Homo sapiens: one gene and its partner. Changing the gene in region 2 together with the main gene of any one other region gives a genetic interaction. Each region holds a gene or a part of one and is shown on either strand. Other genes may lie near its edges. The genes, in order: KEAP1 and PXN.

What was found.
Region 1: changes in PXN (region 2) and KEAP1 together harm fitness more than expected from each alone (negative genetic interaction), as found in Homo sapiens cells (one large-scale study listed by BioGRID).

Annotation. Positions count from the first base shown.
Region 1 is NC_000019.10:10,486,308-10,490,115, forward strand, and holds part of KEAP1 (kelch-like ECH-associated protein 1), read right to left. Parts: intron 3,547-3,808; coding exon 3,341-3,546; intron 3,062-3,340; coding exon 2,885-3,061; intron 512-2,884; coding exon 345-511; 3' UTR 1-344. UniProt on the Homo sapiens protein: Substrate-specific adapter of a BCR (BTB-CUL3-RBX1) E3 ubiquitin ligase complex that regulates the response to oxidative stress by targeting NFE2L2/NRF2 for ubiquitination.
Region 2 is NC_000012.12:120,224,086-120,227,893, forward strand, and holds part of PXN (paxillin), read right to left. Parts: intron 3,033-3,808; exon of another isoform or gene 2,284-3,032; coding exon of another isoform or gene 2,268-2,283; exon of another isoform or gene 2,099-2,267; coding exon of another isoform or gene 2,068-2,098; intron 1,337-2,067; exon of another isoform or gene 293-1,336; coding exon 66-292; exon of another isoform or gene 1-65. UniProt on the Homo sapiens protein: Cytoskeletal protein involved in actin-membrane attachment at sites of cell adhesion to the extracellular matrix (focal adhesion). Recruits other proteins such as TRIM15 to focal adhesion.

The DNA of each region.
Region 1 (3,808 bases), on a different chromosome or scaffold from region 2:
TATCCAAGAATAAATCACATGGTGACAGCTGCCGGCATGGGTGAGTGGGACCCAGGCCTATTACCCGGCCAGAGGGTTTGGGGGCCTCTCTCCTGGAAGCCTGCTCTTTCCACACCCCCTTTCCCAGCCAGGCTGTCTTGGACACTCCCGGGGCTCCGCTGAGGGGCACATGATTCCCGCTTTGGACTTCTTTTGAGATGTCATTTTAACACTGAGGCATCCTGGCCTCCCTTCCCGGAAGATGGGTTATTTGCAGTGCTGTCTTTTCTTTTAGTCCCGGTTTTTGTACAAAAACAATGATACTCCCCATTGGACTGTATTTTTGCCCAAGAAACAAAAGTGCCTCAACAGGTACAGTTCTGCTGGTCAATCTGCTTCCGGCAGGGCTCCATGGTGACAGCCACGCCCACCCCACTCCGGCCCGATGTCATTCGGGTCACCTCGCTCCAGGTGTCTGTATCTGGGTCGTAACACTCCACACTGTCCAGGAACGTGTGACCATCATAGCCTCCTGCGGGAAGAACAGAAGGGATGGTCACCACCTGTCACACCACATCCAAGAGCAGGGGACAGAAAGAGAGAGATGCAGCTGTGAGATGCAAAAGCAGGCCGGGCGTGGTGGCTCACGCCTATAATCCTAGCACTTTGCAGGGCTGAGGCAGGAGGATTGCTTGAGGCCAGGAGTTCGAAGCCAGCCTGGGCAACATAGCAAAACCTTAGTCTCTTACTAAAAAAAAAAAAAAAAAAAAAAAATGGCCAGGCTTGGTAGCTCACGCCTATAATCCCAGCACTTTGGGAGACTGAGGTGGGTGGATCACTTGAGTCCAGGAGTTTGAGACCAGCCTGGGCAACATGGTGAAGCCCCATCTCTACAAAAAAACATAAAAATTTAGCCAGGCTTGGTGGTGCGCGCCTGTAGTCCTAGCTATTAGGGAGGCTGAGGTGGGGAGGATCAGTTGAGTCTGGGAGGCAGAGGTTGCAGTGAGCAGAGGCTGCACCACTGTACTCTAGCCTAGGCAACAGAGTGAGACCCTATCTCAAAATAAATAAATAAAAATAGGAAAATAGGCCACTCGCGGTGGCTCATGCCTGCAATCCCAGCACTTTGGGAGGCCGAGGCGGGCAGATCACCTGAGATCAGGAGTTCGAGGCCAGCCTCGCCAACAGAGTGAAACCCTGTATCTACTAAAAATACAAAATTAGATGCGATTGGTGATGCACGCCTGTAATCTCAGCTACCTGGGAGACTGAGGTAGGAGAATCGCTTGAACCCGGGAGGCGGAGGTTGCAGTGAGCTGAGATTGTGCCACTGCACTCCAGCCTGGTGACAGAGCAAGACTCCACCTCAAAATAAATAAATAAATAAATAAACAAAAAATAAAAAAATAAAAATAAAATAAAATAAAGGCCGGGCACAGTGGCTCATGCCTGTAATCCCAGGACTTTCGGAGGCTGAGGCAGGTGGATCACCTGAGGTCAGGAGTTCAAGACCAGCCTGGCTAACATTGTGAAACCCCGTCTCTACTAAAAATCAAAATTGGCCGGGCATGGTGGCTCACACCTGTAATCCCATCCCTCTGGGAGGCCGAGGCGGGCAGATCACCTGAGGTCAGGAGTTCGAGACCAGCCTGACCAACATGGAGAAAACCCTTCTCTACTAAAAATACAAAATTAGCCGGGCGTGGTGGCGCATGCCTGTAACCTCAGCTACTCGGGAGGCTGAGGGAGGAAAATCGCTTGAACCTGCCAGGTGGAGGTTGCAGTGAGCCGAGATCGAGCCATTGCACTCCAGCATGGGCAACGAAAGTGAAACTCCATCTCAAAAAAAAATTAGCTAGGCGTGGTGGCACGTGCCTGTATTCCCAGCTACTCAGGAGGCTGAGACAGGAGAATCACTTGAACCTGGGAAGCAGAGGTTGCAGTGAGCCAAGATTGCGCCATTGCACTCCAGCCTGGGCAACATGAGCAAAACTCTGTCTCAAAAAAATAAAATAAAATAAAATAAAAATAAACAAAAACATTAAGCTGGGCGCGGTGGCTCACACCTGTAATCCCAGCACTTTGGGAGGCTGAGGTGGGCAGATCACCTGAGGTCAGGCGTTCAAGACCAGCCTGACCAACATGGTGAAACCCCATCTCTACTAAAATACAAAAATTAGCTGGGCATAGTGGCAGGCGCCTGTAATCTCAGCTACTTGGGAGGCTGATGGGGGAGAATCACTTGAAACCAGGAGGCGGAGGTTGCAGTGAGCTGAGATCGTGCCATTGCACTCCAGCCTGGCAACAGACTGAGACTCTGTCTCAAAAAACAAAACAAAACAAAACAAAACAAAAAACAAAACAGGCCGGGCGCGGTGGCTCATGCCTCTAATCCTAGCACTTTGGGAGGCCGAGGCAGGTGGATCACGAGGTCAGGAGTTCGAGACCATCCTGGCCAACATGGTGAAACCCTGTCTCTACTAAAATACAAAAAATTAGCCTGGTGTGGTGGCATGTGCCTGTAGTCGCAGCTACTCAGGAGGCTGAGACAGGAGAATCGCTTGAACCCAGGAGGTGGAGGTTGCAGTGAGCTGAGATCATGCCATTGCACTCCAGCCTGGGCAACACTGTGAGACACCATCTCAAAAGAAAAAAAACATTAGCCGGGTGTGGTGGTGCGCGCCTGTGGTCCCTGCTACTTGGGAGGCTGAGGCAGGAGGATGGCTGGAGCCCAGGCTGTTGAGGCTCCAGCGAGCTGTGATCACACCACTGCACTCCAGCTGGGCAACAGAGCGAGACCTTGTTTCTAAAAAAAAAAAAAAAAAAAAAAAAAAGGAAAGCAAAAGCAAAAGCAGTCCACAAAAGATGGGCTAGTCAGGACTCTTCCCCGCCCCCAGGGCCTCACCAAGGACGTAGATTCTCCCCTGGTGGACAGTGATCCCCAGGGCACTTCGCCGGTGCTTCATGGGGGCTACGAAAGTCCACGTCTCTGTTTCCACATCGTAGCGCTCCACGCTGTTCAGCTGGTCCTGACCATCATAGCCCCCAGCAGCATAGATACAGTTGTGCAGGACGCAGACGCCTAAAGGGCACCATGCAGAGAAGGTGACTCTGGGGGTCTGGCTTTGGGAACCCCAGCCATCACCTCCTTGAGGGAGACCTTTCCTCTCTCCTCTCCCTTCTCACCCTCAGAAATGAAGCGGGGAGAGAGAGAAGCTTGGACTCTATCAGAATCCAGGGCTTCTGTGGTTACCCCAGCATGAGGGTTGCAACAGGGGGTCTCTCCCAGGCCTGGCTCAGTTTCACCCCAGGATGGTAGGGGGTGTTCCTGGGTGCTCCCCTCCCTACCGTCCCCACCCACCTGCCCCGCTTCGGATGGTGTTCATTGCTGTGATCATTCGCCACTCGTTCCTCTCTGGGTAGTAACACTCAGCTGAATTAAGGCGGTTTGTCCCGTCAAAGCCCCCCACGGCATAAAGGAGACGATTGAGGACAGCCACGCCCACCCCGATCCTTCGTGTCAGCATTGGGGCCACCAAGTGCCACTCATCCCGCTCTGGCTCATACCTGCAAGGGCGTAAGAAAAATGGGGACAATGGCCATTATAGCTGACCTTCGTGGAATACTTAAGGGCCAGATACTCTTTTTTTTCCTTTTTTTTTTCCCCCTTAAAGAGACAGGTTCATCCGGCGCGATGGCTCATGCCTGTAATCCCAGCACTTTGGGAGGCCGAGGAGGGCGGATCACCTGAGCTCAGGAGTTTGAGACCAGCCTGGCCAACATGGTAAAAACCTGTCTCTACTAAAAGTACAAAAATTAGCTGGGTGTG
Region 2 (3,808 bases):
CTGCCAGCTAAGTTCCCTCTGTCCCCCAGCCTCCTTGGCCTTCCCAGCCACTGTCCCCGCCTCACCTGCTGGTGGATGAATCGGGAGCTGCTGGGCTGCCACTGGTCTAAGGGGTCAAGGATTGTGCCATTGAGGGCCTCGCTGGACGGGGGTGGGGGGACGGGGGGTGGCACGGCAATCTCCTGGTATGTGTGGTTTCCAGTTGGGTATGAGTAGGGGGTCTCCTCCGACAAGAACACAGGCCGTTTGGAGATGTGGGAGGTGGTAGACTCCAAGTCCGCCAGCAGGGCGTCTGCAAAGAGAAGGCACGGGTAGCAGGTGAGAACCGGGATCCTGGGGACTCTCCCGTGGCAGGGCCCTCCCTGCCTGCACCTCAAGAGTTAATGCCTTCTAGCACCTGCCCCACCCATGGGAGAAATGACCAGCCTTGGGACAGGAAGCCACCAGCCCCGACCAGCCTAACCAAGAGCCGGCTCCCAAAGCTAACTTCTTCTGGCCACCCAGGACTGAAAGTGCTCTAGAGGCGGGCTCTGGGGCTGCCCTGTGGGATCTCCTACCTCTGGGAGTCAGGCACCTGGCACTGCGTTCCCTCCTGACAGGGCCGCGCAGCCGCGAGTGAAGTGCCTGTCTGGAACTCTGAATCTGCAGGGCAACGCGGAGAGAATGGGCGGGAGGGGCCCCACGTCACAGGGAGGGGCCCTGGCTATGCCAGGCCCTCACTTGATTTCTAAGAGCTTAGGCTTTCCCAGCCCCCGACTGGAAGGGGCACTCAGGATGGTCCCTGCCCTCCTAACCAGGTGGAAGCAGAAGCCCAGGCTCCAGGTTCCTCCTGAGGCTCTAGGCTTATGGGGTAAGGTGTGCGGGGAGGTGGGGGCTGGAGTGAGGCTGGTGCAGCGGTCCCCACCCCCTCAGTGAGCAGGGGGCAAGACTGCTCCATTGGCTGTTTCTGCGGAAGTCTGGCAAGCAGCCCGGCCCCAGAGGCTCCAGGCCCCCACTGTTCTGCTTTTAACAGCGGCAAGGGAGCCAAATCAGCCCTCTAGTGTAAGCTTCCATTACCCTGGCACCTGGCAGCCAACAGGGGGGCACTAGGTCTCCCCAGTCTCCAGAAAAGAAGGGTATAGAAGGGCAGGAGTAGGACCTGCTGACCCCCACTTCCTCCATCCCCTCCTGGGACCCTCAACAGCCCCACGGCTCAGACAGCCTGGCCCTGGATGCCACACCCTCATTCCTGCCCCGTTCACAACTTGCTTGCTCTCAGCTCCCCGGTAACCTGCTGGGTCCAGGGAGCTGACAGCTTGATCCCTAGCCCTCAGGATAATAAACATCTAAAAAGCAATGGCTGCGTTTATTGCCACTTATCAGTAGCAGGCAGACTGCTAGGCATTCTAGCAGCATGTACGAGGTCTCCGTTAATCCCCCTAATACCCCCTGTAGCTGGAAATGATTCTCCCCGAAGCGATGAGGAAAGCCGGGCTTGGAGAGGCAGAGGTCAGAGGTGTTTGCTCCAAATAACAAAGCCAGTGAGTGGCACAATTGTCTGACTCCTCAGAAGCCCCAAACCCCAAAAACCTGGCCTGTAAGAGGCCACTATGACTACCAGATGATGCCATACTTAAAGGGTTCAACTTCCTGAATGTTGGAGGCCCAAGCTGTGAGGCCTGCCAGTGTGATCCTTCCTTGTGGCCTTGCTCCCAGTCCCCCAACCTGTGTTCAGAGGAGGGAATAGAGAAGCAAGGCCCTCACCCAGGGCCTCGGTCTATGGGGCCACACCTTGTCCCAGCTGCCTGTCCTGATCTCCTACCCTCAAGGCTGGCCACACCTACCCCATGCTCCTGCCCAGATGGACAGAGGGGATGTCTGTTCCAAGGCCCAGGACCCCGGGTCTGGTCGCCTGACCTCCAAGGAAGTTCAGGTCCTACAGCCCGCCCCGCCCTCCGGGTCCCATGGAGGAGGCCTGGCTTCCTGTCTCTAGCAAACCGGAACTAGAGGGAGTTGGTAGGTATCTAGGTAACGGCAGAAAAGGAACCAGTGTCCAGGCCAATCCCCACGGCCTCTCCAGGGCCACACCTGCTGTCTTGGCTTCACGCAGTGTCCTCATTTCCTCTGGGCCCAATCAGCAATGGGTGGATCCCTCTTTCTCCACCATGGGCAGGGCCAGCTAAGAAACCCCATAGGACTCCCCAGAGCAGGCAACGAATGAGTGCAACCCCAGTAGGGGGCAGGAGCAGCTGCCATCCTTGAAGGCCCACTGGGGCCAGGAGCTTCACCTTTGTTACCTGCCATCCTCACAACGCCACCAGCACAGATGGTATAACTGCGGTTCAGAGGCAGAGTCACATCCCACACTGCCAAGGCTGGATGAAGTGACAATGCTGGACTCTGATCTCAGGTCTCTTGGACTCCAAACACCCAACAGAAGACAAATGGTCAGGCTTCCTTGTCAAACATTTTGAATCAGGGACTCCACCAAACACCCGCTCCACCACAATGTGATTCTAAGCCTGGGCTTTTGGTTTATGGATTGGATTCAGGTTTACAATGTCAACAGGCTCTTGGGAGCACAGATCCCTAGGCTGGTGAAGTATTGGTGAGAGGATGCAGTCCTGGGGCACAGAGACACAAGATCACTCATTCTGAGGTCGAGCCAGACCTGAGTTCAAGTGCCAGCTCCCCTCTCTACCATCCATGCCACAGGGCAAATCGCTTAGCTTCTCAGGGCCTGTTGTCTCAGTAAGCTCTTGAATAACTCTGACCTCAAAGTACTGGTGTGAGGTTTATAAGGGCTAGCAGGTACACTGGAAGCTGCAGACATCAGTTGCAAATATCAGGCTCTCCAGACCCAAGTCACTCTGCAGGAGGAAGCTCCATAGCACATTGGAAGCTACAAACATCAGATCTGATTTGCTCTGTAAAATCCAGAATAAGGTCTTCCTCCAAGGAGAGCAGTGTAGGTAGGATGCAAAGTACTAACTTCTTCTAAGTCTCCTAAGTCTTTTCTGGGTAGAATATGAGCAAACCATGAAAAGGGCAACCTTGAAAAGAAAAGAAAAGTAATAAAGTAACATTCAAATTGTAGCATGTCCCAGCCTGGGCAAAACAGTGAGAGCCTGTCTCTACAAAAAATTTAAAAATTAGCTGGGTGTGGTGGCGCATGCCTATAGTCCCAGCTATTCAGGAGGCTGAGGTGGGAGGATCACTTGAGAACAGGAGTTGGAGATCGGCTTGGGCAACACAGTGAAACCCCATCTCTACAAAAAATTTAAAAATTAGCTGGGTGTGGTGATATGCGCCTGTAGTCCCAATTACTCAGGAGGCTGAGGCAGGAGGATTGCTTGAGCCCAGGAGGTCAAGACTACAGTGAGCTACAATTGCACCACTGCACTCTAGCCGGGGTGACAGAGCAAGACCCTGTCTTAAAAACAAACGAACAAATCATAGAGTGCAGATGTCAGGGAGAAGGCACATCATTATTCAGTTTTCTCCAAAGTTTTGTCTATTTGAGGGACAGAGAAAAACCCCAGCAAGTCCATCCACCAGCCACAGGGTCTCTGGTATGGCTTCCTCCTCTCTCTCCACCCTTCATTCTCACCTAGTGATTTGGACAGGCAAGGACTAGGCAAGAGGGGTAGGGGTTGGTGCCTCCAAACCCCCCACAAACTCCTCAAGAAAGAAAACCAGAAATACAGGAGGCAAGCCAACAGTAGACTCCTAGCTTTACTTTGATTTCCAATGGGTGCAAATACCTGAGACTTCCCCATAGGCTGCAAAATGGTTAAGGGTCAGAGTCCCCTTGCAAGCTCAGCAAACG